Homo sapiens: one gene and its partners. The protein of the gene in region 1 interacts with the protein of each later gene in a pairwise test. Each region holds a gene or a part of one and is shown in the gene's direction. Other genes may lie near its edges. The genes, in order: LONRF3, CTAG1A, NOTCH2NLA and DES.

Region 1 (7,023 bases):
TCAGGCATTAACATTGCTTAGACGAAAAGAGGAATCAAGGTTAGCAAACGGTTTTTTTCCATGGTAATATGATGTAAAGTGCTTAAATGGGTAAATGTGTAAGAGAGAGAATGTGTGTGCGTGTGTGTGTGTTTGTGTGTGTGTGTTTACATATACTCAGGTGAACAGGTTGGCTAAATATTTTCGGAATGGAATTTATCCAGACACTCTGTGCATTAATCTCTATTTTTCTTGGACCAGACAGGGCAAAAAATCTGAATTCCCCAGAAGAGATAGACTAGAATTGATGTTACAAAATGATCTAGCTATGCCCTAAACTTTAATAAATGTATTTTAATCCAGCTCAAAAATGAAAGGCAAATGTTTATCTGAAGTATAACAATAGCGACTTTTTAAAAAGAACTCCTCCCCCACCCTAAAATATTCTAAATAATGCTTTAAAAACTTAGCTTTGAGTCACTCTTTTATTTTTGGTCTTATTGCAGTTTTCTTCCATTTTGATTCCTAAATTTCAGATTATTCTATGAGCCAGTCACAACACCTTGCGGGCATACTTTTTGCTTAAAATGCCTAGAAAGATGCCTAGATCACAACGCAAAGTGTCCATTGTGCAAAGACGGTCTTTCACAGGTAAATCAATATTTCTTTCTTGTTTGGTTTAAATCAGTATTTCTTTCTTGTTTTGTTTAGTTTATTTGGAATTGGGCACTAAGACAGTGTTCAACTGGACCCCCAGCCACGGCACTGTGGTAGGGCACATTACTCCCTCAAACCATCTATTTCTCCTGTCTTCTTTTTTTTTTTTTTTTTTTTTGACTGAGTCTCCACTCTCCCACCCAGGCTGGAGTGCAGTGGCGTGATCGCGGGTCACTGCAACCTCCGCCTCCTGGGTTCCAGCAGTTCTCCTGCCTCAGCCTCCCAAGTAGCTGGGATTACAGGCGCATGCCACCACGCTCGGCTAATTTTTGTTTTGTTTTGTTTTGTTTTGTTTTGTTTTGTTGAGACGGAGTCTCGCTCTGTCGCCCAGGCTGGAGGGCAGTGACGTGATCTCCACTCACTGCAAGCTCCGCCTCCCGGGTTCATGCCATTCTCCTGCCTCAGCCTCCCCGAGTAGCTGGGACTACAGGCGCCCGCCACCACGCCTGGCTAATTTTTTGTATTTTTAGTAGAGACGGGGTTTCACCGTGTTAACCAGGATGATCTGGATCTCCTGACCTCATGATCCACCCGCCTCGGCCTCCCAAAGTGCTGGGATTACAGGCGTGAGCCACCACGCCCGGCCTAATTTTTGTATTTTTAGTAGAAATGGGGTTTCACCATATTGGTCAGGCTGGTCTCGAACTCCTGACCTCAGGTGATCCACCCACCTCAGCCTCCCAAAGTGCTGGGATTACAGGCATGAGCCACCACGCCCAGCCTATTTCTCCTGTCTTATAGCCACTGTCCCCCTCTCCATAAAGTCCTTCAGGAAAATGAGGCAACATGCAGCTTTTTATGCAGTGTAAGTAGGGAAATTAATTTGTGTTGGAAACGAAAGTATTAAATAGATGATAAACTTGGATCCTGGTTCTAATGTCATCGTGGCACCTGATACACTGTAATCTTGAGTAAATCTTTTGTCCCCTCTAGGATTGGACTAGGTAAGCCCTGATGTTCCCTTATCATCAGTGTTTATTCTGTGGCTTGAAGATAACAGCTCCAAAGGCCCCAGAAGAACCTCACAGAACTTCAGTGTGATCCTTGTCCAACCCATCAGGAGCCACTGTACCTGGAAGCCCTAGAGCTTTTGCAGACCGCAGCCCTCTAGGACTTCCAGGTTCTCTAAAACTAATCACACAAACTCCCACCTTTGTTTTTCAAGTGAACCTGAAGGAATTTCCTACAGATAAAGAAGACCTGAGAATCTATCTTGTTTTCCCTCCCTCAGGGACTTATCTGCCACATTTTACAATCGGTGTTAATGTTCCTTGACCCCTGTCATTCCTGAGGAGAGGTTGGAGATGCAAGGCTATCTCTAGGTGACTACAGGTCAAGAGAAGTCACATGTTGAGCTTTACCATCACCCCAGTATTTAAATTAAGGGAATGGAGTGAAATCATCATCACTGGTAGCCCTGAGGGTATGCGTTGGGATTGGGAGGAGGGTCAATGTCATACCTTTCCCTGGATAAAGTTGTAGGATTTGCAGGCCTGATTGTAGGTGAGAAGTCCTTGATCCTTATACTGAAATAATACATCTGTGTTGTTGTAGCACTGGAAAATTCAGATTAAGTGGAAAGAAGAAAAATCTACCCATATGCTCAGTACCTAGAGAAAACCACTGTTAGTTAACATTTTAGTATGTGCCTTTTCTGGCTTTTTGTTTTAGTATCAGCAGAGGAGTCACCTACTTTTTAGACTGACTACCTCCTCAGTCAATGCTTATCCCCCACAACTGGGACTGGGAAATGCAGTTGATTTTCCCATAGCCAGGCAATGGCAGTGACAGTGGCAGATAAGGCATCCTGGAGACAGATGCTATAGAGTTCAGGACTTGGGGTCTAGAAGATATTCTCATCTATCTCTGTTTATTCACATAGGGTCACACTTGCACCATTTTACATAGAATTAAATATTCCAATCATTTTCACTGCAGAATAGAGACACAGCCCATACTGAGAAAGGAACAAAATTGTTTGAAGCCAACAGTTTTATACTCAGGCGCTCCCCCTGCTGGGACTGTAGGGGTAGTTTCCATAGCAAGCAATTCTCTGCAGATGTTTTAACATCAGTTGTTTGATTCACACCGTTAAATACCCACTACCTAAACATCCCTGGGTATGCATCGGACAGGGGTGTTTGGGAGGAGAGTAACAGTGACAATTGAGCCTGAGTCCAGTTCTTGAAATCATGACTTTTAATCTCAGTGATACCTAGATGGTATATTAGAAAGGCAAATAGACAAATCAATATTTAGCTGTTTGTGTTTTTTTAAACTAAAATTAAAAGAGAAAAAATAGGTATATTTGGCAATATCCAGAAGCCAAGCATTGGGTTAGGCTGGGAGTGGGACAGGGCAGGAAAGGTTCAGTGATTGAAAATTGCTTTTTAGTTCCCTGAAACTTTTGGCCACTAACTTTGAGCATATCCCAGATGGAGACAATTTCTGTGAGCTTGTAAATACAATCATCAGAAAATGGAAAGGGAAGAATTCCCCCCACCCTACTTTTTGGACAAGAACATGATCTTGATTTCAGTGTTTCAGAAAAACTGTGAGAGTTTTAAAACTTCAATGCAGGTTTTACCCCCTTGTTAAAAATTTTTTTCTAATTATAAAGATAATCAATTGCATGTGTGTTTTTTTAAATGAAACTAACATCCAGAAAATACATATATTATGATGGTAACAGCTGCTAATTTGTGGGTCCAGATTACTCCAATATGTGGGTCATTTGACTTGTTCACTGATTACATCAGAAGTGTTTTGCTGATTGCTACGTATTACCTAATTGCATATTGTCTAATTGCCTCCCCCCATGTAGTGCTTGGCATCAAGAAAATACAGCAAAAATGTAATAATGGAGGAGCTCATAGCTAAATTCCTTCCAGAAGAACTGAAGGAACGAAGGAAGCTTTATGAAGAGGAAATGGAAGAACTTTCTAAGTATGTATATGCATATTTCTGTTTTGTTTCACTCATACCAGCTCAATGAGAGCTGAATGTGCACATTACTTCCCAGCTTCCGACTTAGTGATGTCATGCTAGCTGCTTGAAATTGGCTATGGTGAGAGTATTTACACCATGGAAATTGGCAAGTGCTACAAACCAGGGTTTCCGCTGCACCCAGAGAGCCAGTTGTTAAACATACCAGCATACCACTGAAGAAGCATAAGCGAAACCAGTGATGAGGGTACGCCCTGCCCCCAGTAACAGGGTATTGTTGGCAAGAGTAAATTGGAGTAGCATAAACAGGGGAACTTAACGAAATGTCCAAAAGATTGTTTTCAGATACATAAGGAGTTGCTATGAGGTTAAGAACTTTGGTGTCAACCAGAACCGGGCTTAAGACCCAGTTCTACCTCAAAGTGAGTCTACTTCACGACCCTAGGCAGGTCATTTAACCTTTCTGGGCCTTAGTTTCCTTATCTGTAGCTTGAGAATAATTTAATAACTTGAGTTCTTACCTCATGGACTTCTTTTTTTGAGATTGAGTCTCACTCTGTCACCCAAGCTGGAGTGCAGTGGTACGATCTTGGCTTACTGCAACCTCCGCCTTCCGGGTTCAAGCGATTCTCCTGCCTCAGCCACCCGAGTAGCTGAGATTACAGGCATGCACCACCATGCCCAGCGAATTTTTGTATTTTTTAGTAGAGACAGGGCTTCACCATGTTTGCCAGGCTGGTCTTGAACTCCTGAACTCAAGTGATCCTCCCACCTGGGCCTCCCAAGGTGCTGGGATTACAGGCGTGAGCCACCATGCCTGGCCACCTCATGGACTTCTTATGAAAATCAAATGAGTTTGTGCATAGTAAGCACTTAATTAATGGTAATAATACTAATACTTGTCAAGCGCTTTCTCTGCCGTGCACAGGTAATGTGAGAGGTGAAGGGGAGGGGCAGAGGCGTCATTGAGGCTCTCAGCACTCTGCCTGGCTGTAAGAACAGCTCCCTTAGCAGAAAAAGCAGGAGGCAATCACTAATTTCTGCCTCTCTTGCTTCTGCCCTCTCCTCCCTCCATCCGCAGTAGAATCCTAACAGCATTCCAGAGGCAAGGTTCCTGACAGCAAAAATGGTTCTGGTTTCATGCCCACTGTGTAGAGAACATTCGTAAACTCTGCCAGTGGCTTGTTTGAATGCACTCCTCACTTAGACTAATGCTTTTCTCAGAAACTAGAAATCGTTTTTTTTTTCTCATTAATTTACATTGGAACTACTCGGGGGATCTTTATCTTTATTTCTGATCTGTAAATTAGCATTGAGCCTCTCTGAGCCCTCATCTCAAATCTCATTTAAGGTCTTATTAACAAATACTGAGATGTATTAGGGCTTTCTATGTAAATGAATCCTGAACTTGATCCTTTTGAGATTTGGGCAGTTGGTCTTATATTTCTTGATAGGTTTAGGTTCAGATGTTCCTGTGTTGGATTTACTAGACAAATAAGACAAGGATCCCAGAAGAGCTGGCTCTGTTTTGGTTCCCCAACGGGTTGTGTGTGTGAATCTCTGGGGGTACTTATTGAAAGGCAGGGCCGGGCATGGTGGCTCATGCGTGTAATCCTAGTATTTTGGGAGGCAGAGGCCGGTGGATTGCTTGAGGTCAGGAGTTCAAGACCAGCCTGCCCAGCATGGTGAAACCCCATCTCTAATAAAATTACAAAAATTAGCCAGGCATGGTGGCATGCACCTGTAATCCCAGCTACTCAGGAGGCTGAGGCAAGAGAATTGCTTGAACCCGGGAGGCGGAGGTTGCAGTGAGCCAAGATTGCACCACTGCACTCCAGCCTGGGTGACAGAGTGAGACTCCGCTTAAAAAAAAAAAAAAAAAGAAAAAGAAAGACCCTTGGGTCCCAATTCCAGAGCTAATGCATCAGTATCTCTGGTAATGTGGTGTCCAAGTCATCTTGATTGAAGAGCCCCTGTTGATTCTGATGCAAAGAAGCATTTGAGCATCACTGGGCTGGATTATTCTTGCCTATCTCTTGGTCCTTCCTCCTTTCAGCTGTGCCTCCTTTGCAGACTCTTTGGGGTCCTTGCAAATTTGAGATGCCCTAGGGACCTTACAGAGAATTTCCCACCACCCTTCTGGAGAGCTGAGTCCACTTCTATCATCAGCAACCTTCCCCATGCAGCCTGAAAAACACCTGAAAAGATTGTTTTGAGTGGAGAGCATGAAAGTAAGAAAAAATATGAATTATAGCTATCATCCACAATATTAAGATACTAGAGAACTTCTTCAGCCAAATTAAAATGTGTAGAATGCCAATTTTAATTTCTTAGACCTTAGGCTAACCTCTGCATCAGATCATGGGACTCAGCCCACACTATCAATTGCATTTCAATATTTTTCTATTAGCCATCAAAACTTGATGTATCTTTGGCAAGTGACACTGTCAAAAAACAAACTTGGTGTCTCTGCCTTCCCCCAGGGGTATCACATGCTAACATTTGACCAATATTTTTGTGTTCTGTCCGATTGCTTTGAGATCCCTGTCATTTTCTCTTTCTGACAGCCTTAATAAGAATGTGCCTATTTTCGTGTGTACTATGGCCTATCCCACCGTTCCTTGTCCCCTGCACATCTTTGAGCCTTGTTACCGCCTGATGATTCGTAGATGCATTGAGACAGGCACGAGACAGTTTGGCATGTGCCTTGGAGATCCTGTCAAAGGGTAAGTGAGGAGCCATGCGAGCAAAGGGAGGTTGTGTAATGAGGGATTTCTGTTTTACTTTGGGGTACTCCCAGGAGACAGGGAGGCCTAGCTCATGAGGTTTAGCCAACTGAAGAATATGAGCATTTGTAAGGATCATTGTCCCTTTGGTGGTTAGTTTACCATGTGAGAGGCTGTCTATTTAAAGAACCCTAGAATTAATATTTGGTTAAACAGGTGGTATATGTTATAAAACTTGTAAGAATGTGGGCCTTGGAGTCAAACTGCCTGCTTTCATTATCTAGTTGCAGCCTTGGAGCAAGTTTGAGTTTGAGCAAGCTATTTAACCTTTCTGTATCCCAGTTTCCTTATTTGTAAAGTGGGTACAATAATAGTACCTACCTCATTGGGTTTGCTTGGAAGATTGGTGAGTTAATAATGTACATAAAATGCTGAGCACAGTTCCTGGCTTCCTTAGTCCATTTTGTGCTACTATAACAGAATGCCACAGACTAATAATTTATGAACAATCAAAATTTATTTCTCATGGTTCTGGAGGCTGGGAAGTCCTAGGTCAAGGTGCTGGCATCTGGCAAGGGCCTTCTTCCTTTATCATAACATAGTGGAAGGGCATAGCAGAAGGGCAACAGAGAGAGAGAGAAAGAAGGGGGTCAAA
Region 2 (6,799 bases), about 36 Mb from region 1:
GAGCCACAGGAGCGGAGCTGCCCAAGGCCTCAGGAGCCCACCCCTTGCCTCAGTGTGGCCTGGATGTAAGACATGGAGCCAAAGGAGATTATTTTGGAGCTTTAAGAATTAATGACGATTTTCTGCTCCGCCCGCCCACAGATGTAGTTTCCTCCGCACGTGCGCACCTTCCCTCCTCCCCGCCTGCAGGGTCCATGGCCTCCATGGCGTTTTAGGGGCAGCAGTGCCTGTGGCAGCCTTGGCCTTTGCAGCGGTGGCAGCAGCACCAGGCTCTGCAGTGGCATCCACCGGCGGCTTAAGCCGTAGCACTTCTCACAGCATTCAGCAGCAGCATTGCTGTAACCGACAAAGACACCTTCGAATTAAGCACATTCGTTGATTCCAGCAAAGCACTGCACCATGACCGAGATGAGCTTCCTGAGCAGCGAGGTGTTGGTGGGGGCTTGATGTCCCCCCTTGACCAGTCAGGTTTGGGGACTGAAGAAAGCCTAGGTCTCTTAGATGACTACCTGGAGGTGGCCAAGCACTTCAAACCTCATGGGTTCTCCAGCGACAAGGCTAAGGCAGACTCCTCCGAGTGGCTGGCTGTGGATGGGTTGGTCAGTGCCTCCAACGATGGCAAGGAGGATGCTTTCTTTGGGACAGATTGGATGTTGGAGAAAACTGATCTGAAGGAGTTCGACTTTGATGCCCTGTTGGGTATAGATGACCTGGAAACCATGCCAGACGAGCTTCTGGCCACGTTGGATGACTCGTGTGATCTCTTTGCCCCCCTAGTCCAGGAGACTATTAAGGAGCCCCCCCAGTCCAGGAGACTATTAAGGAGCCCCCCCCAGATGGTGAACCCGATTTGCCATCTCCCAGAAAGTTTAACCCGACCAGGTTGCCCCCTTCACCTTCTTGCAACCTCTTCCCCTTTCCCCAGGGGTCCAGTCCTCCACTCCAGATTATTCCTTTAGTCTAGAGCTGGGCAGTGAAGTGGATATCTTTGAAGGAGCTAGGAAGCCAGACTCCACTGCTTACATTTCCAAGATCCCTCACTGCACAAAGGAGGAAGACGCCCCCTCAGATAATGATAGTGGCATCTGTATGAGCCCAGAGTCCTATCTGGGCTCTCCCTCTACCTCCAGGGGCTCTCCGAGTAGGAGCCCGCCATCTCCAGGTGTCCTCTGTGGCTCTGCCTGCCCCAAACCTTATGACCCTCCTGGAGAGAAGATGGTAGCAGCACAAGTAAAGGGTGAGAAACTGGATAAGAAGCTGAAAAAAAAATGGAGCAAAACCAAACAGCAGGAACTAGGTATCGCCAGAAGAAGAGGGTGGAGCAGGAGGTCCTCACTGGTGAGTGCAAAGCGGTGGAAAAGAAGAACGAGGCTCTGCAAGAGAGGGCGGATTCCCTGGCCGAGGAGATCCAGTACATGAAAGATTCGATAGAAGAGGTCTGCAAGGCAAGGGGGAAGAAAAGGGTCCTCTAGTTGAGGGTAGTCAGGAGCGTCAATGTGCTTGTACATAGGAGTCTCGCGCTGTAGCTGTGTGTTCGAATAAATTATTTTGTAGTGGAAAAAAAAAAAAAAAGAATTAATGACTGTCCTGTTGGGTTTTGGACTTGCATGGGGCCTGTAGCCCCTTTGTTTTGGCCGATGTCCCCCTTTTGGAAAGGGAGTATTTACCCAATGCCTGTACCTCAATTTTATCTTGGAAGTAGCTAACTTGTTTTAGATTTTACAGGCTCATAGGCAGAAGGGACTTGCCTTGTCTCAGTTGAGACTTTGGACTGTGGATTTTTGAGTTAATGCTGAAATGGGTTAAGACTTGGGGGACTGTTGAGAGGAGATTATTGTATTTTGCAATGTGAGAAGTACATGAGATTTGGGAGGGGGCAGGGGTGGAATGATATGATTTGGATTTGTGTCCCCACCCAAATCTCATGTTGAATTGTAATCCCTAGTGTTGGAGGAGGGGACTGGTGGGAGGCGATTGGATCATGGGGGTCGATTTCCCCCTTGCTATTCTCGTGATGTTGAGCTCTCACAAGATCTGGTTGTTTAAAAGTGTATAGCACCTCCCCCTTCACTTTCTCTTTCTCCTTCTCTGGCCATATAAGATGTGCCTCCTTCCTCTTTGCCTTCCGCTATGATTGTAACTTTCCTGAGGCCTCCCCAGCCATGCTTCCTGTAGAGCCTGCAGAACTGTGAGTCAATTAAACCTCTTTTCTTTATAAATTACTCAGTCTTAGGTAGTCCTTTATAGCAATGCGAGAACGGATTAGTACCGTCAATATTGATGAGAATGTTGAGCTATGTGTATGTACGCTGACACATTATGGTGGAAGCGAAAATTGGCTCAAACCACTTGGGAAAACATGGCATTATCTAGTAAATTTCGAGATATGTATTGGCTGTGATACAGCAATTCCAAAAAAAAACTTGGACATGTGCTTCAAGAGACCTGTACAAGCATGTTCATAGCCAAGGGCTGGAAACTATCCAAATGCCTGCCCATCATCAGCAGAATGGATAAATTAGAGGACTATAAAACTCTGCCGTAATGTAATAGGTAGTTTCCAAGAAATCCAATCGCATACAATGTGAAAATGTGTTACTGTGGGGTTAATGAAATGAATGAGGCAAGCCCGCTGGACCATCCAAATCTGTCCTGCTCCCGGCTGGAGTTTGATGCCATCTAGTGGCAGACGTTGCTCTGGCTGAAATATTGATGGAGATTTCCGGTCCAGTGGCTGGCTGAGACTTCCAGGACAGTGGCAGTATCTCCAGGAATCTCTCAGTCAGTTAGGACTTCCTTTCTTGACTTGATCTGAGGATAATAGGCCGGGAAAATAATGGGGACCCGGAGACCCTCCCTCTGTCTTCCTGCTTCCTAAGACAGGGTCACATGCACTTTACTCTCCCTTCCCTGACCTGTTGAAGGTAAGAACTTTAGCCTGCCTCTGTCTGAGAATGGGGAGACTGAGCAGAGGACGACAGGAAGGATGGCAATCACTAACCGGGTTATGTCTGATTTTCAGCTATTCCAGGTGTTAACAAGTTGTGTTCTCTGGTTTTTAAAATTCATCATTTAATGAAATATATGTAATGAAATACAGCAGTGAAAATAATAAACTGGAGGTACACGCAAGAGCTTGGGTGAATTTTTCTTTTCTGTAAGTAAAAACATTTTTAACTGATGTATGATAACTCTGCATATTTATGGGATACATGTGATATTCTGATACATGCACACGCACACACGATGTAATGATCAAGTCGGGGTATTTAGGATCTCCACCACCTCAAGCATTTATCATTTCTTTTTTTGGGGAACATTTCCTATCTTTTAGCTATTTTGAAATATACAATAAATAATTACCTATAGTCCCTCTACGGTGCTATCAAACACTAGAACTTAATCCTTCTATGCAACTATATGTTTGTCCCCATTAACCTCCCCACCCTCCCCACCTTTCCCAGCGTCTGGTAACCATCATTCTGCTCTACCTCCAAAAGATCAACGTTTTTAGTTTCCACATGAGTGCCAATATGCTTTTCCCAGGTGCAGAGGCTGCTGATTCCTGGATTTGGAAGGTGGGGGAGAGTGGTTTGGATTTCAGTACCTCCCCCTTCCTCAGGGCTAGGCCCTGTCTGGTCACCTCCTGTTGCTACAGGTGTGCCTGGCACAGACATTCAGCTCCCGGGGCCGTGCCGCCCTCACCCCTGCATGCCTCTAGAGGTACCTGTCCCGTGGATTTGACCCCCTTCCAGACACACAAATAGATCACCACTGAGCAGACACAGGGTCACCTCCCAGCTCCCTACCAGGCAAGAGCGACCAGGGCAGGGACTGATACTGCCGAACCCAGGAGCCAGGCCCGACCCAGCCTCAGGTCCAGCAGGTCCCGCCTGTCCACCTGGGCCAGGCCTAGAGCCCGGGAGCCCCTGGCTGGTGGGAGGCCACCCGCAACCCACCCCACACGCAGCTCCAGCTCCCCCACCAGGCGGGGCGACTAGGACAGGGACAGAACCCGTTGAACCCAGGAGTGAGATCCGGCCCCGGGTCCCGCTGGGCCCTCCCGTCCACCTTGGCTGGACCTGGCGCCTGGGAGACCTTGGCTGGCGCGAGGCCACGCCCACCAGACATGCAGTTCCAGCTACCCCACCAGCTGGGCGACCAGGACAGGGACGGAGGCTGCTGAGCCCAGTTAGAGGCCTGCCCCCCGGGGTCTGTCCTGGGCGCTCCCCCAAGGACGGACAGGGCAGGCAGGGTCCGGGACGATGGCCGCACAGTCCCGGCCCCGTGTTCCCAGGCCCGTCTTGCTCCTCGATGTGAGGGAGACCCGGGGGATGGGACAGGCTGGGCCCCGCAGTGCCTGACTCCCTGCAGGGCTCCCGGGACAGGGGTCCGGCGGACAGCCGGCTGCTCAGGGGTGAGGGGTCCAAGCTGGCATTGCGGCCACCTTCCGGCCCGGGCTCTCTTGGGGAGGGGCGGGGTTGGTGAGAACCGGTCACGTGCTCCGGGGCTCACTCGGGGTCTCCCAGGGCCGGAAGTAGGGCCCCTGTGCGCAGGCGCCCTGAGGATCCCGGGCTGCCCATCTCACGCCAGGGGGCGGAACTTCCTGCAGCCTCTCTGCCTCCGCATCCTCGTGGGCCCTGACCTTCTCTCTGAGAGCCGGGCAGAGGCTCCGGAGCCATGCAGGCCGAAGGCCGGGGCACAGGGGGTTCGACGGGCGATGCTGATGGCCCAGGAGGCCCTGGCATTCCTGATGGCCCAGGGGGCAATGCTGGCGGCCCAGGAGAGGCGGGTGCCACGGGCGGCAGAGGTCCCCGGGGCGCAGGGGCAGCAAGGGCCTCGGGGCCGGGAGGAGGCGCCCCGCGGGGTCCGCATGGCGGCGCGGCTTCAGGGCTGAATGGATGCTGCAGATGCGGGGCCAGGGGGCCGGAGAGCCGCCTGCTTGAGTTGTATTCTGTTCTGTTCTGTTCTGTTCTGTTCTGACAGTTCTGGTGGCGAGGTGGGGGCCGGGAGATGGGGAGGGCAGGGCCAGGTGGGGGAGGAGGCGGGGGAGATGCGAGTAAGTGGTTGGGTGGGGGTGGGGGTGGGGGTTGGGAGGTGGGGATATGAGAGGCCAGCTGCGAGGAGGGGAGGAGGTAAGGGCTGGGAGGTAGAGGGGGTGGGGGTGGGGGAGAGGGGCTGGGTGATTGGGTGAGGGGCACCGGGTCATGCGGGGAGGGGAGCAGGGGCCAGGAGATAGGGGGACCCAGGTGTAGGAGGGGATCAGGAGGTGGGGGGAAGGGGGCAAGATGGGAGCGGGTGGCGGGAGGTGGTTGGGATGGAGGGTCGAGTGATGAGGAGGGGGCCGGGTGATGCCACAGGGGGCAGGGTGGGGAGGGGTCTTGTAAGGGCATGGAGGAGTCAGCTTGGGGTGCAGCAAAGGAAAGTGGGGAACCAAGACAGCTGGGTGGGGTGTGCTACTGGGCCAGTGCCTGGGGAGACAGCCTGGGGGGGATGGGCTGGGCAATCCGGGGTAGGGGGGAGGGGTGGGGGAGTGGGGGAGGGGGAAGCTGGCCTGGGGTAAGCAGCAGGCCGGAGCCACAGGCCAAGTCCTAGGAGAGGATGCCTTAACTGGGCCCCCACCAGCTACCTCGCCATGCCTTTCGCGACACCCATGGAAGCAGAGCTGGCCCGCAGGAGCCTGGCCCAGGATGCCCCACCGCTTCCCGTGCCAGGGGTGCTTCTGAAGGAGTTCACTGTGTCCGGCAACATACTGACTATGTCAGTTCAGGACCAGGACAGGGATGGGGCCTGGGTGGGTGGCGGTCACAGCGTGGCAGGGTGGGGGCTGGGATCCGCCTACACCCCACGGTCAGGCTGCTAGAAACCTGGGAACACCCCAGCACAGGGTCTCAGAACAGAGACCTGGTACACCAGGCCCGCCGCCACCCGAGGGAGCCCAGGGAGATGGGTGCAGAGGTGTCGCCTTTAACGTGATGTTCTCTGCCCCTCACATTTAGCCGACTGACTGCTGCAGACCACCGCCAACTGCAGCTCTCCATCAGCTCCTGTCTCCAGCAGCTTTCCCTGTTGATGTGGATCACGCAGTGCTTTCTGCCCGTGTTTTTGGCTCAGCCTCCCTCAGGGCAGAGGCGCTAAGCCCAGCCTGGCGCCCCTTCCTAGGTCATGCCTCCTCCCCTAGGGAATGGTCCCAGCACGAGTGGCCAGTTCATTGTGGGGGCCTGATTGTTTGTCGCTGGAGGAGGACGGCTTACATGTTTGTTTCTGTAGAAAATAAAACTGAGCTACGATTCCGTGTCTGAGTCTCTTTTCGGCGAGCGAAGGCACCTTCGGACTTGCATGCCCTTGTCCTCGGGTTGCAGGGGAGGCTCTGGGATTCACAGATTGAAGTAGCACAAGGTAACGGGAGGCAATTTGGGAAATGGGGGAAAATGAAAAGCCACTGGGTCCCGCCATTCAGCATTAACTACTGTGGACATTTTAGAATATTTTCCTCAATATACTTGCATTTATATGTTAAATATATGACAGTAGCATATATAATGTTTTTCCAGGTCAGCATTAAATTTTTTCCCAAATTGTTTTCATTGAACATATGAGCTTTTTTACTTGGGAAAAATTCTTTGAAAACGTACTTGAATAGATGCATAGAACCAGCATTATCATATCACTGTTAAGCATGTGATATGGGTTGGGCATGGTGGCCCACACCTGTATTTCCAGCACTGTGGGAGGCTTGAAGCGGGAGGATGGCTTGAGACCTGCAGTTGGAGGCCACCCTGGGCAATGTAGCGAGATT
Region 3 (7,995 bases), on another chromosome or scaffold:
GCCCAGCCTGGTCTTGAACTCCTGGGCTCAAGCCATCCTTCTGCCTTGGACTCCCAAAGTGTTGGGATTACAGGTGTGGGCCACTGTGTCCTTCCTTAACATAATAAAATTGAGATAATCACATTCATAAAAGGGCAAAACTATGTCAACAAGCCCACTGTATTAGTCTGTCTTCACAGTGCTGTAAAGAACTGCCCAAGACTGGGTAATTTATAAAGGAAACAGGTTAACTGACTCACAGTTTAGCATGGCTGGGAAGGCCTCAGGAAATTTAACAATCATGGCAGAAGGCAAAGGGGAAGCAAGGTACCTTCTTCATAAGGCAGCATGAAGGAAAATTAATGCAGGAGGAACTACCAAACACATAAAACCATCAGATCTCGTGAACTCGCTCATTATCAGGAGAACAGCATGGGAGAAACCGCCCCCATGATTCAATTACCTCCACCTGGTCTCTCCCTTGACACATGGGGATTACAATTCAAAATAAGATATTGGGTGGGGACACAGGCAAACTATATCGCCCATATTACAATTACTTACATTACTGATTCCCTTAATTAGAGCAGAGGTAATTAATTGGGTCTAGGCTCAGTGGAAGGGTCTGGCTGGTTCTTAATTCTCAGAGCTAGTTTGAATCTTGAGGTTAACGTCTTGCCTTCTAGAACTTGTCCTGTGTTTGGCTGAACTCTGTGAACCTTTCAGAAAGTAGGTCTTTATTGAGCACATACTCTATGCAAGGCAAAGAACCAACTACTGTGGAGTTTACAAACATGAATAAGGGGTAAGAAATGACTCTTGTCACATGGTTTACAGTCCAGCTGTGTGGGCCACCACAGTTCATATCTTTCAGGCTGGGGACTGGATGAGAGGAAAGTGGACTCAAAATTAATCCCAGTGCTCTCTACTTTCCCATATCCCTGTGCTTTATCTCTGTTGTAGTTATGTTATTTGTATGTTGGCCTGCCTCACTGCTCTGTGATCTCCAAAGAACAGGGACTAGGTTTTATTTATTTCTGCATTGCCGCAGAGCCTAGTATGTGCTTTATAGAGAACAGGCTCTCAAAAAAATTTTAAATTAAAAGAATGTATTCACTTGTTTATGTTTCCTAGTTACAGTGGGCCAGCTTGTTCTGTGCTAATATGGAAGTGACAAGAAACTGGTGTCCCTCTACGCAGAGGTCCCCACACTAAATATCATCTTGGATGTGCTTCACATTGTTGCACAAAGGTACAGTGGAGTGAGACTGAGTAAGAGGACAGAAATAGTGGGGGGTTTGTCTCAGCTCACTAATTACTTATTTAACCTTGGGCAAGATACTTAAAGCTCTATCTCAGTTTCTTCATCTGCAAAATGGGGATAATAATGACTGGGGTGCCTATTTCCCACGATTGTTTTGAGGATCAAATGAGATAATATAATTAAAAGTGTTTTTGGAAGGTCTAAATCACTGTGCAACTGCAAGGCATTATTAAAAGAAATCTTCCTTTTAATTCCTGCTTCCACAAACATCTCATCACATATCCTTGGGTTCCTGGGTTACATGGAGAGATTCGTGGTGTAGCTCAATCTATGTGTCATAGCTATCCCACAATCTCTTCTTCAACTTCTCCAACACACCAAGACATTCTTCCAGTCTTGCACTGCTCCCCAGTTTATATAGATATATATGTTCCTCATTCAGCATTTATGTAAAACATATATTATTGAGCACTTATGTGATAGAAACCGGGGCAAAACAGAAAATAAAACAGAGTTTTATTTTGAGAGTTTTTTACAGCTTGTCGGCTCTGAGAGGACAGACATGAGAACAAATAAGTGCCCAATTCTGCATTTATTTTGGAAGGCAGTTTTATGTGAGTTTAAATCAGTAAAGACATAGATGTATATTTTTAGTTTTGATTAAAACTAAAACAATTGGTAGCCCTTACTCATATTTTTCTATCATTAAAACTTATCTTTAAAAAATGTCTTCAGTCATATTTTTCCCTTACTTCCATTCATATTTACTCTTTACTTCTCTTGTCCTTACCAGAATGTATGCAGTAAGTTTTCATATTGTAACACATTCAACAAAAGTTATATGTGAACATAATAGCTGCTTTCTTTAAAACGGTTACTTTGAGAAACTGCATACCTATTTTTTTTTTTTTTTTTTTGAGACGGAGTTTCACTCTTGTTGTCCAGGCTGGAGTACAGTGGCACGATCTTGGCTCACTGCAATCTCTGCCTCCTGGGTTCAAGTGATTCTACTGCCTCAGTCTCCTGAGTAGCTGGGATTACAGGTGCTCGCCACCATGCCCGGCTAATTTTTGGTATTTTTAGTAGAGACGGGTTTTCAACATGTTGGCCAGGCTGGTCTCGAACTCCTGACCTCAGGTGATCTGCCCACCTCAGCTTCCCAAAGTGCTGGGATTATGACATAAGCCGCCACGCCTGGCCTGCACATTTATTTTAATAATGTTGTCATAGCTACAGTCGCTTCTAGAGTTGCTCTTTGGGGATAACTATCTTATATTCTTCTGAATATATTTTAATAGTGACAAAACTTATCTTTGCAGGTGATTTTTAAAATTTGTATGCAGCCAAGTCACTATGAATTATCTTTAGTGAGTAAAGAGGAAGATCGAACTGGTAACACTGTGGGTAAACAACTGAAAAATAATGTTATCTTTCTCTGAACATACTTGCACAAGACAAATTCCAAAAATATTTTGACTACGTTATTTTTGAAAAGGGTTTCCAGTATTTCAATGTGACTACTTTCACTAATGATACTTGCTTACCTAAAGTGCTTGTTAACATGCAGTTTTGGAACTTCATAGGTCTATGCCCATACTGACTTGTACTTGCTTAGTGTTGTTTTACATTCTAGTTCAACATCTATTATGTGATAGACACTGGGGATTAATAGGCTGTGGTCTTTGCCCATGAGGACCTCAAAACTTAGTTGAGAACACAGAAATACAAAGAGTCCTGTGTGAAAAATAAGTATCGGTGTTAAGATAAAGAAGCGGCAGTGGAAGACAGTGGAGGGACTGTCTGTTAGAGGGAGGAATTTATTGTGGTGTCGGCAAAGCCTTCTTTGGACTGAAGGATGAATTATGATTAGAAGTTCATTAAGAGGAGGAGGGAAGGGGACTACAGGAGTCATTCCAAGCCAAAGGAACAAAAGATACAGGGACAGAAACAGCAAGATATGTTTGGGGGAATCTCAAGTAATACTGTTATTGTGTGAAGTTCACAACAGGGGCAGGGAGGACAGGAGATGGGGCCCAATGACGAAAAGGCCTTGTATGTACCATGTTTAGAAGTTTGAATTTTATCCTATAGGAGTCAGGGAGAGGTTCTATGGGTAGGATTTCTCATCCCAACAGGATTGTAAACTCCCACATCCAATTAGTCACACCTCCATTTTTTTTTTCTGTTTCTTTAACATTGTCTCAGATTCATTCCTTCTGAAATCTACCTTATTAGTTCAGGTCTTCTTAAATTTGTGCCTGGACTGTTCACCAACTCTTGACTGGTCCTGGGGCTCCAGTTCACCTCTTGCTCCCAACAATCAATTTTCTACAGAATTATCAGAGCAATCTTCCTTTCCATCAATCTCAACTCTGTTCAAAAACTTTCAATAGTTTTATGTGACCTAAGAGGTAGCTGCCTCCCCACCCTTTCAGCTTGCCATTCAAGGCTGCATAATTTGGTCCCAACCCCCTTTCCGTCCTTGACTCCTCTCACTGCTAACAGAGACAGAACTCATTTACTTACTCTTCTGACTGTACCTTTGCTTTCACGAGGGCTCTTTCCCGGAATGATATGTCCATACAACTATTGTTGTTGTTCTTACTTTTAGCTCTTTTCTTAGAAGCCCACTTGTACCCAGGTTTGATCACACCCCCTACTCTCCTGCCCTGGAAGTAACTACTATTCTGGTTATAGTCTCTTAATATCTATATCTATATATATGCATCCACAGATAATGTGTAGTATTGTCTTGAAAAAAATATACATAAATGGTATACTTTGTCTCCCTCTGCGATTATTTTCACTGTCATTTAGTTTTTAAGATTTATCCCTATTGACATAAATAGCTATAGTCTTTTCAATTACTGTGTTGCATTTCATTTTATAAATATACCATACATTATTCATCCATTCCTCTAAGGGTGGGCATTTATGTTGTTTTCAAGGTTTTGCTATTACAGTGTTACAACGAATATCCTTAGCTTAGCTGGTCTCCTTGTCTTATACAAATTTTACTGACCTTTCAAGATCCTGCTTTCATCCCAGCTCCTCTGGGAAAGCCTTCCCTGAATCCCCCAGCCCACAGCGGCAAAGTCTTGGTACTCAAAGTTGCTTGTGCATCTTTGGTATCATCCCACTGCCAAGCACACAGCTACGCAAAGTAAGGCACTTAAGAAATATTCGCTACACGGATGAACAAATGAATGAATGAATGGGGCAGCACCACTCCGTGATGGCTCTATTCCTTTTTAATGGACTTTGGCGCCTTGGCCCACTTTCCTTCTTTGACAGCACTGGTCCTACTCCAGAGCATTCCTCTAGCTAGCAAAGCAGTGTGTGGATGTGTGGGTGTAGGTGGCGATACAGACCTCACTGGATGAGGACCGCCTCTCCCTGCAAGTTCACGATCCCGGCAAACTCCAGTGCTTGAAGTTCAGAGTCCTACCCCACCCCGCTCACCTCCACGCCCCTTCTGCACTGGTCAAGCCAGCGAGCCGCTGCAGCCCTGATCGAGTTAAGGCGCGGCGGCCCCCGGGGCCGCTGGAGAAGGATGCGGACGGGGCCAGTGACTCGTAGTAGATCCCTCCGCGCGGAGCTCGGGCCGGCGCTTCTTCCTGCGGGAAACCCCTGGGTGCCCAAGGCGGCGGGGCCGAGGCCGCGGCGACAGTGGGGCGGGGCTTGCGGTGGGAGGAGGCGGCTGAGGCGGAAGGACACACGAGGCTGCTTCGCTGCACACCCGAGAAAGTTTCAGCCAAACTTCGGGCGGCGGCTGAGGCGGCGGCCGAGGAGCGGCGGACTCGGGGCGCGGGGAGTCGAGGCATTTGCGCTGGGCTTCGGAGCGTAGCGCCAGGGCCTGAGCCTTTGAAGCAGGAGGAGGGGAGGAGAGAGTGGGGCTCCTCTATCGGGACCCCCTCCCCATGTGGATCTGCCCAGGCGGCCGCGGCGGCGGCGGCGGAGGAGGCGACCGAGAAGATACCCGCCCTGCGCCCCGCTCTGCTGTGGGCGCTGCTGGCGCTCTGGCTGTGCTGCGCGACCCCCGCGCATGGTGAGTATCGGGCTGAGGGGCGCTGTCCGCGGCGCCCGGGGCTGCCACCTGGGGCGACCCTTCTCCCCCTCGGTCCTTCTCTGTGTGGGAAGGCCAGGCTCGGCCGCCGGCGCGGAGCGAGGCCACTCGCTGGGTTCCCGAGAGTTTGGACATCGCCGGGGGCCCCTCCCGTGGTGCCCCGCCAACCGCCGGGGTTCCCCGCCAACCGCCGGGGTTCCCCGCCGCCTCTGCTCCCCGCGGCCCGGGACCCCTCACACGCCTCCTCGGCAGGAGGGAGGCCGGCAGCAAGTCTCAGAAACTCCTTTTTCGTAGTGCCAGGGTGCAGGGAGGTGGGCAGTTTTGCCCTTCAGGTTCCGCGTTTCCTGGGGTCGAGCGAGAGCCGACGGCGGGCCTCGGAGGGGCTGAGCGAAGGAATGCCAGATTCTGGCGTGGAGAGCGGGGGCAGGGCCGCCAAGCCAAACGGCCTGCACCTTCGCAGCCAGCCTCGCCTTTGCCAGGGGGCGGCACATGGGCCGGGTGTGTGGGCTTGGTTTGGATGGGGACGGGGTTTTGCGGCGCGCCTGAGTTTTGACACTCCAACCCCACCGAAAGTCCGGAGGAGCCGGGTGTGCTGCTCGCGTCTTTGAAAGGTGGAGGCAGGAGAAGTAGGGCAACTGGTGTGGCTGCATGCTGAGGCACATGATTTAAAAATCTCAACTGCTGTTATTCTTTCTGAGGCGCGGAGCTCTGCTGCTGTTTCAGGCTGTGTCCAGACCCAGGAATGTGGTGTGACGATCACCAATTCCTCCAACCTGGCAGCAGCATTTGCTGCTCCTTTGGCATGGCTGGGGGTGGGGCACGGGCGGGTGAGAAAAAGTGGATACGTCAATTCAAAGGGCTTCCTTAGAAAGCTTCTTTGTGGTTGGATGTTTCTAACACGGTTGGACCAAGGAAAGGGAATCAAATCATATCTTCCCCATCCCACCCACACTTTTAGATTCTACATTTCTTCAGACCCTTTAGTGGAAATAACTTGGGCTTTGGAGCCCTGCTCTGTAATCCTGGATTCAAATCCAGCTCTGCTATATGAACTCACCAATAAAATGGGAATGAAATTATCCAGCTAATAGGATTAATTAAAATAATGTATATTAAACGGATGACACTCCAAAGGTGTTCAGAAAGTCCTTTGAGGGCCGAGGCTGTGTTTTACTGCTTCTGAGATTGATGCTCCCAGTGGGATGGTGTCTTGTGCATATTTGTTGAACGGAAAGCAGCCCCTTCTTTTTCTGAGCCTAATCTGAATAAAGATTTTTACCTTCACCAAAAAACTAGTACATGAACTACATCTGTTTTCAAAGAAAAGGTTAGGAAGATGATGAGCTTCAGAAAAATATGGTCTTTGTTCATTGTTAACAGTCAGTCGACATGTCAATCGCAGATGTTTAAAAAGAGAACAAGGTTATTTATCACCCGAAAATAGTACTGGGTTGTTCAGCACCAACTAGATACTTCTTGGAAAGTTCAAATTTCGTACACGTCTAGGTCACTAAGAATTTCAGAAGTGGACCAGGAGGCTTTGTAGTGATGAAGCAGAGCTGTTGTTTCTGAAGCATTTAATAAAGAGCATATATGATGGTGTTTTTGCTTTTCCTTTTTCTTTGAGTGAAAGCTTTAAGTGTAGCTTTAGGATAGAGAGGAGTATAATCAATGAGACAGTCTGAGGGTAATAATCCTTGGTCTATCATTAACTTGTTTTGGTAAATAACTTAATCTTCATGATATGTAGTCTCCTCACCTATGAAGCAGGACTAAAGGAATAACCTGCTTTAGAGAATTGTAGGGAATAATAAATATGATTGTAAAGTGATTTGAAAAATTAAGTATTAAATAATATGTCAGAAATGGGATTACTCTGACACATAGGGCTTCTTTTATTATAGGATCTCAGTGCGTAAAACTATGCCCTCCACCTCTGCTCTGCTGAGGTGCTGCGATTATTAGCTAGCTTTTAGGTAGTCAAGTTGAGTGTTAGTCAAGTTGACTCAAAGGATAGGATTTAGATATTTTGATTTTTAGACAGGTGTTCTTTAGATGCTAAACTAATGCAGTAGAAGAGATTTAGAAGCCTGTTTCTTGGTACAAATCTTAAATCTTCTTAGAGTCTACAGTGAAGGCTTCTTGAATCCTCCTAATTTATTATTGTGTTTTGCTAAGGTACCAATTACAGCACACCCTTCTAAACTTTTGAGTGTTCCTGTGTTTGGCTTGTGGCCAATTGTTAATTTAAACATCACGGAGTTTCTAAGGCAAGGAGATGTTAGCAGTATGTCTGATTGTCTAAACAGCTATCCAGGACCATACTCTTGCTCCTTGTTTTCTTTTGCTTTGCAATGGGAAGTGACTCCCTGATTTTGCTGCCTGCTAGATAATTTCTCAGCTGAATTCTTCTCTTGCTTAAACAAAATCGGAGTAATTTTCTTTCAGATGGTGATGAAATTTAACCTAAAACTATTTTTCCTTTCACTTTCTTATTATTCCTTTTTTTTTGGTGTGGTGGAGAGGAGGAGGAGAGTGATTCCTAGTCTCTCTTATTTTTCTGAATGTTTAGATTTAAAAAATATTTACCCATAACTTCTTGGGATCTCTCTGCTCCATTCCCACCCTACTGCCTCTCCTGTAGGCTTCTATGACATAGAGAAGCAACTTTTGGTTCACCTGGATT
Region 4 (7,376 bases), on another chromosome or scaffold:
CATTAGGGAAACGCAAATCAAAACCACAATGAGCAGCCAGGTGTGGTGGCTTGCTTCCATAATCCCAGCACTTTAGGAGACTGAGGCAGGAAGATCGCTTGAGACCAGGAGTTTAAGTCCTCAGTGAGGTATGATCATGCCATTGCACTCCAGCCTGGGCAACAGAGTGAGACCCTATCTTTAAAAAATGAAATAAGGCTGGGTGTGGAGGCTTACAACTATAATCCCAGCACTGTGAGAGGCTGAGGTGGAAACATCACTTGACCCCAGGAATTTGAGACCAGCCTGGGCAACATAGGTTTGGAGACCTCATCTCTATGGAAAAGTAAAAAAACTAGCCAGGTATGGTGGCTTGCACCTGTAGTCCTAGGTACTTGGGAGGCTGAGGCAGGAGGATCACTTCAGTCCAGGAATTTGAGGCTGCAGTGAGTGATGATCGTGCCATTGCACTCCAGCCTGCGTGACAGAGGCCCTGTCTCTAAAAAACAAAACAAAACAAACAAACCACAATGAGGTACCACCTCACATCCATTAGGAAGGCTACTATTAATATTATAAAACAAATAAACAAATAGAAAATAGCAAGTGTTAGCCAGGATGTGGAGAAATTGGAACCCATGTTCACTGCTGGTAGCAATGTAAAACAGTGCAGCTGCTGCGGAAAACAGCATGGCAGTTCCTCAAAAATTTAGACATAGCATTACCATATAACATAGCAGTTCCACTTCTGAGTATCTACAGAAAAGAACTGAACATAAGTATTTGAACAGATATTTGTACACCAAAGTTCATAGCGACATTATTCACAATAACCAAAAGTTGGAAACAACCCAAATATTCATCAACAGATAAACAAAGTGTGGTGTATACATACAATGGAATATTATTTAGCCTTAAAAAGAAAGGAAATTCTGACCCATGTCACAACATGGATGAACCTTGAAGACGTTATGCTAAGGGAAGTAAGCCAGTCACAAAAGGACAAATATGGTATGATTCCACTTGCATGAAGTACCTAGAGTCAAATTCGTAGAAACGGAAAGTAGAATGATGTTTACCAGGGGCTGGGAGGAGGGGAAGGTGGAGGGTTATTTTTAATACATATGGAGTTTCAGCTTGGGACAATGAAAAAGTTCTGCAGATGGATGGTGGGGATAGTTGTACAACAATGTGAATGTACTTGACGCCACTGAACTGTATACTTAAAAAATGGCTCAAATGGTGAATTTTATTTTATGTATATTTTATCACAATGTAAAAGTGACTCAGCTGTCAATGTACTAAAATGGAACCATCTCTAAGCTGTATGTCATTGAAAAAAGATTGATTCAGAAGTGGGGGCTCCACATAAGAAAATGTGGTTGTGTGTACATGAAGTATCTCTGAAAGGAACCGATAACAACCAAAACCTGGTTGTCTCTGAAGCAGTGTTTGGGGTGGCTGGGTGTCAAAGTGGGAAGGAGACTTACTTTTCATTTTATGCCTTTTTGCACATCTTGAATTTTGTACCATATACACTACCCATCCAAATAAATTGTCGGTATTTTTAGTGTGTCCCATCCTGAGTGGTCCTCTCGGGAGGCTGAACTCTCCCTCCAGCGGTGCTGCCCAGCTCACAGCATGTTTTGGAGTGCTCCTCTTTCACCTGCCTTCCAAGCCTCGGGGTGTTGATTTGCAGCCCTCCATGGTAGCAAATCCTCAGGGGTGGAACTGAATTTTGAAAACAGTCCCAAGTGGTTCGGGGCCAAGTCTGGTGGTTGTTGATTTTGACTAGAGAATAGATGGCATGATTTATTTGTCTTCTGCCTCTTTTCACCAAGGAACTGAGGACTTGGGCTGGTCCAAAGGCCAATTTCCTTATGTGGTCTGGAGATCATTCACAGAGAAGAGCTCCAGAAATGTTGTCCCAGTAGCATCATAGAAATAGGTGTAGAGTCCCCTTCAGGAAGATTAATCTGGTTCTTTGGGCTGTAAGTGATCAAAGCAATACCAAGTGCCTTAAATTAAAAAAAAAAAAAAAAAAAAAAACGGAAAGTTTGTTGGCCCAAGGCCAGGAAGGACAGTGTGGGAGCTCAACTCACAAAGTTGAGGGAAGCACTGCAGGAACCAAGGGGCTGGCCTGCTCCTCCTCTCCAGCCTCCTCTGCTTCTTACATATTGACCTCTCTTTCTTCCTACTCCCCCAGGGGGCAGGAAACATGGCTTCCACAGGTTCCAGTTGAAGAATCCCAGTTCCGTCTATAAATTCCAGGGAAGGTCTCTGATTGGCCCTGCTCATTCCCAGGCCCATTCCTTGACCCAGTCACTGAAGTCAGGGAGATGCAGTAATAAGACTGGCTGGAATCAGGGTCTTTAGGGGTGGAGGGATGGGGAGGAGGCACAGCATGTCATCAAAATAAGGAAATTGCAAAAGAAAGCTTGCAGGCTACTTTGAATGACAATGAGAAAGACGGTGCTGCCTGAGTGTGTTAAGGATCCACATGGTCTCCAAAATCCTCCAGGAGCATACAGTCTAGTCTGGGAGATGAGACACAAAAATAACCAGAACACAACAGCTTGCACTGACTCGAGGGCTGGATAAGAATATCTGGAACTCCCCCATCTATTTCAGAAGCTTGTCTCTTGGATGAAAATTAGACACTTAATGGGAAAGGGCTTTGAAAAGAGTGCAGTAACAAAGCCCCCTTTACAATTTACCCGGCACATTCACACCCATCCTGAGGCCAAAGCCACAGGCTGTGAGGTCTCACTGTCTCAGCTTCCTGAGCTATAAAATGGGAATGATGCTAGTGTCTACCTCCTAGGGTTGGAGAATTGGGGGTCATGGGTGTGAAGTGCTCAGCAGCTTGGCCCACACTAGGTGGTCAGTACATGTAAGGTATTATTGTTGCTACATACATTAGTAGGGCCTGGGCCTCTTTAAACCTTTATAGGGTAGCATGGCAAGGCTAACCATCCTCACTTTATATCTGACAAGCTGGGGCTCAGAGAGGACGTGCCTGAGCTGGGGCTCAGACAAGGACACACCTACTAGTAACCCCTCCAGCTGGTGATGGCAGGTCTAGGGTAGGACCAGTGACTGGCTCCTAATCGAGCACTCTATTTTCAGGGTTTGCATTCCAAAAGGGTCAGGTCCAAGAGGGACCTGGAGTGCCAAGTGGAGGTGTAGAGGCACGGCCAGTACCCATGGAGAATGGTGGATGTCCTTAGGGGTTAGCAAGTGCCGTGTGCTAAGGAGGGGGCTTTGGAGGTTGGGCAGGCCCTCTGTGGGGCTCCATTTTTGTGGGGGTGGGGGCTGGAGCATTATAGGGGGTGGGAAGTGATTGGGGCTGTCACCCTAGCCTTCCTTATCTGACGCCCACCCATGCCTCCTCAGGTACCCCCTGCCCCCCACAGCTCCTCTCCTGTGCCTTGTTTCCCAGCCATGCGTTCTCCTCTATAAATACCCGCTCTGGTATTTGGGGTTGGCAGCTGTTGCTGCCAGGGAGATGGTTGGGTTGACATGCGGCTCCTGACAAAACACAAACCCCTGGTGTGTGTGGGCGTGGGTGGTGTGAGTAGGGGGATGAATCAGGGAGGGGGCGGGGGACCCAGGGGGCAGGAGCCACACAAAGTCTGTGCGGGGGTGGGAGCGCACATAGCAATTGGAAACTGAAAGCTTATCAGACCCTTTCTGGAAATCAGCCCACTGTTTATAAACTTGAGGCCCCACCCTCGACAGTACCGGGGAGGAAGAGGGCCTGCACTAGTCCAGAGGGAAACTGAGGCTCAGGGCTAGCTCGCCCATAGACATACATGGCAGGCAGGCTTTGGCCAGGATCCCTCCGCCTGCCAGGCGTCTCCCTGCCCTCCCTTCCTGCCTAGAGACCCCCACCCTCAAGCCTGGCTGGTCTTTGCCTGAGACCCAAACCTCTTCGACTTCAAGAGAATATTTAGGAACAAGGTGGTTTAGGGCCTTTCCTGGGAACAGGCCTTGACCCTTTAAGAAATGACCCAAAGTCTCTCCTTGACCAAAAAGGGGACCCTCAAACTAAAGGGAAGCCTCTCTTCTGCTGTCTCCCCTGACCCCACTCCCCCCCACCCCAGGACGAGGAGATAACCAGGGCTGAAAGAGGCCCGCCTGGGGGCTGCAGACATGCTTGCTGCCTGCCCTGGCGAAGGATTGGCAGGCTTGCCCGTCACAGGACCCCCGCTGGCTGACTCAGGGGCGCAGGCCTCTTGCGGGGGAGCTGGCCTCCCCGCCCCCACGGCCACGGGCCGCCCTTTCCTGGCAGGACAGCGGGATCTTGCAGCTGTCAGGGGAGGGGAGGCGGGGGCTGATGTCAGGAGGGATACAAATAGTGCCGACGGCTGGGGGCCCTGTCTCCCCTCGCCGCATCCACTCTCCGGCCGGCCGCCTGCCCGCCGCCTCCTCCGTGCGCCCGCCAGCCTCGCCCGCGCCGTCACCATGAGCCAGGCCTACTCGTCCAGCCAGCGCGTGTCCTCCTACCGCCGCACCTTCGGCGGGGCCCCGGGCTTCCCACTCGGCTCCCCGCTGAGTTCGCCCGTGTTCCCGCGGGCGGGTTTCGGCTCTAAGGGCTCCTCCAGCTCGGTGACGTCCCGCGTGTACCAGGTGTCGCGCACGTCGGGCGGGGCCGGGGGCCTGGGGTCGCTGCGGGCCAGCCGGCTGGGGACCACCCGCACGCCCTCCTCCTACGGCGCAGGCGAGCTGCTGGACTTCTCACTGGCCGACGCGGTGAACCAGGAGTTTCTGACCACGCGCACCAACGAGAAGGTGGAGCTGCAGGAGCTCAATGACCGCTTCGCCAACTACATCGAGAAGGTGCGCTTCCTGGAGCAGCAGAACGCGGCGCTCGCCGCCGAAGTGAACCGGCTCAAGGGCCGCGAGCCGACGCGAGTGGCCGAGCTCTACGAGGAGGAGCTGCGGGAGCTGCGGCGCCAGGTGGAGGTGCTCACTAACCAGCGCGCGCGCGTCGACGTCGAGCGCGACAACCTGCTCGACGACCTGCAGCGGCTCAAGGCCAAGTGAGGGCCCGGCACCCCAGACTCCTCTTTCTGCGGGCAGGGCACAGGAGGCTAGGCCTGGGGTCTGGGGTCCCGCTGTCAGCACCTGCCTTCTCCCGGGGCCCGGGACCCTCTCCTGCCCCATGTGGAGAAAGGGTCCTCCACCTGTGTGTTTCAAGGGGCCGTGACCTCCAGGTCTCTCCCCCTGCGATCCCATCTTGCACAGGAGTTTTCTTGGGGACATAGATCAGGGGGTGGATATGGGAGAATTTAGGGGACCCGGTGCCCTGTGGACAGCCCCGTTAAAAAGCATTTTAAGATGCTGGGGCGATATTTATGGGGTCAGGTAGTTGATGGGCAGAGGAAGGGCTGCAGGAGGCCCAGAGGGCAGTGTAGCCAGAGGGAGAAGGGAGGCTGATAGGAGACAGGGAAAGCAGGGCAAGGGCCCAGAGTCCAAGCAACAGCTCTCAGCTCAGCTGTGATGAGGCCCTGGGGGAGGTGGGGGGAGGGGGGAGCTTGGCCCTGGGGCCTTGCCGAGACTGTGTCTTTTTACAAGGTGAATGGACAGGCTGGAGAAAAAGGGAGTAGGTGGGGGTCACAGCTCTCAGAGAGCTTGGGAGGACCTGACTGTAGACTTCACCAGGCTCCAAGAACGAAAAGGGCAGCAAGTGTAGCATATTTGTTGGTCCCACTTCTGACAGGCCAAGTGAGCACAGTCACCCTCCTGCCACCAAAGTCATAAATATTAATTGAGCAGCTATATTGGCCAGGCTGGAGCTGGGAACCAGAAACACAGAGGTGGATAAAATAGACACAGTTTCTAACCCCAGGGAGGTCACACAGTCTGGTGGGGACATAGACTTCAAGGGTGTGGCTCCTGGGCAGAGATTGGGCCACTTCCTGTGCCCTCCCTGGGTGGGTGGGGCCTCTCCACTCCCTGTCTCTCCTGCCTCTACCCAGCAGCCAGGCCCTCCCGCTCTGTCCTGGACCCACCCCCTGGTCAGCCCCCGGCCAGTCGTTTCCACTGCCAGCTTTATCACCCGCAACTGTCTGTCTTTCTGTCTGTCCCACCCAGGCTGCAGGAGGAGATTCAGTTGAAGGAAGAAGCAGAGAACAATTTGGCTGCCTTCCGAGCGGTGAGTGCCCTTCTTTTCCCCTTGCATGGCCTCTGGCCTTGCTCTGCCCCACCTGGGTGGCGGTGACCATGTCCTTCTCGCTTGGCCTCTCCCAGGACGTGGATGCAGCTACTCTAGCTCGCATTGACCTGGAGCGCAGAATTGAATCTCTCAACGAGGAGATCGCGTTCCTTAAGAAAGTGCATGAAGAGGTATACCTTGGCCCCTCTTCCTGGGGTCACTGGGCCATGGGGAAAGCAGCCGGAAAGTGGGGTTGGGGTGAGGCTCTGGCTGGGAATAGGGGTGTGAGGGTGCTGTGTGGGCCCTGAGAGGGGACTGAAGCCCAGTCATGCCCTACAGGAGATCCGTGAGTTGCAGGCTCAGCTTCAGGAACAGCAGGTCCAGGTGGAGATGGACATGTCTAAGCCAGACCTCACTGCCGCCCTCAGGGACATCCGGGCTCAGTATGAGACCATCGCGGCTAAGAACATTTCTGAAGCTGAGGAGTGGTACAAGTCGAAGGTGGGTGGCCTCGCCCGGGGACTGGCATCTCCGTCCCCCTGAATCCCAGCTTGGATGTGCTGCCTGTGGTACCATCCATGGGAGGAGAGCCCAGAGGCTTCATGCTCCCTTGCTCATCCCTACCCGTGCCCTGCATCCTTCTCATTTTTGGGCCCCTTTCTCTGCCCTTAGGTGTCAGACCTGACCCAGGCAGCCAACAAGAACAACGACGCCCTGCGCCAGGCCAAGCAGGAGATGATGGAATACCGACACCAGATCCAGTCCTACACCTGCGAGATTGACGCCCTGAAGGGCACTGTGAGTCCCTGCCCACCTGGCCAGGCCCTGCCCCTTCCTGTCTGCAGTTCACACCCTCACTTTGTGACCTTGGGCCCATCATAGATCCTCTCTGGGCCTTCATCTACTTAAATCTACAATAGGGGTAAAACCAGACAAGTGGATTCCAGTTGGATGCTAAGGAATCAGGGGTTCCTGGGCATCTACCTATGTGGGGACTGTGAGGCTGAATGCAATGTTCCTTTGTATCTATTTTATTCTGAGTGTTCACATATAGACTTAATTTGAGTTCAGGGTTCAACATGGCCTGGACCTGACCATCTGGAGTTGCCTGCCAGCCCCAAAGCTTTCTTTGGGCTGCTAGTGTCCTCTTCCCTTCCTTGACCTGGGTTCCCCCTCTCCTGCAGAACGATTCCCTGATGAGGCAGATGCGGGAATTGGAGGACCGATTTGCCAGTGA

The links.
Region 2: the proteins of LONRF3 (region 1) and CTAG1A interact in binary tests that used the Homo sapiens proteins (3 or more experiments, as listed by UniProt).
Region 3: the proteins of LONRF3 (region 1) and NOTCH2NLA interact in binary tests that used the Homo sapiens proteins (3 or more experiments, as listed by UniProt).
Region 4: the proteins of LONRF3 (region 1) and DES interact in binary tests that used the Homo sapiens proteins (3 or more experiments, as listed by UniProt).

What each region holds. Positions count from the first base shown.
Region 1 is NC_000023.11:119,005,606-119,012,628, forward strand, and holds part of LONRF3 (LON peptidase N-terminal domain and RING finger protein 3), read left to right. Parts: intron 1-515; coding exon 516-630; intron 631-3,520; coding exon 3,521-3,642; intron 3,643-6,209; coding exon 6,210-6,368; intron 6,369-7,023.
Region 2 is NC_000023.11:154,580,527-154,587,325, forward strand, and holds CTAG1A (cancer/testis antigen 1), read left to right. Parts: upstream 1-4,606; 5' UTR 4,607-4,680; coding exon 4,681-4,949; intron 4,950-5,625; coding exon 5,626-5,760; intron 5,761-5,999; coding exon 6,000-6,138; 3' UTR 6,139-6,290; downstream 6,291-6,799.
Region 3 is NC_000001.11:146,226,005-146,233,999, reverse strand, and holds the start of NOTCH2NLA (notch homolog 2 N-terminal-like protein A), read left to right. Parts: upstream 1-4,978; 5' UTR 4,979-5,288; coding exon of another isoform or gene 5,289-5,291; intron 5,292-7,995.
Region 4 is NC_000002.12:219,414,017-219,421,392, forward strand, and holds the start of DES (desmin), read left to right. Parts: upstream 1-4,360; 5' UTR 4,361-4,446; coding exon 4,447-5,024; intron 5,025-6,078; coding exon 6,079-6,139; intron 6,140-6,234; coding exon 6,235-6,330; intron 6,331-6,478; coding exon 6,479-6,640; intron 6,641-6,811; coding exon 6,812-6,937; intron 6,938-7,323; coding exon 7,324-7,376. UniProt on the Homo sapiens protein: Muscle-specific type III intermediate filament essential for proper muscular structure and function.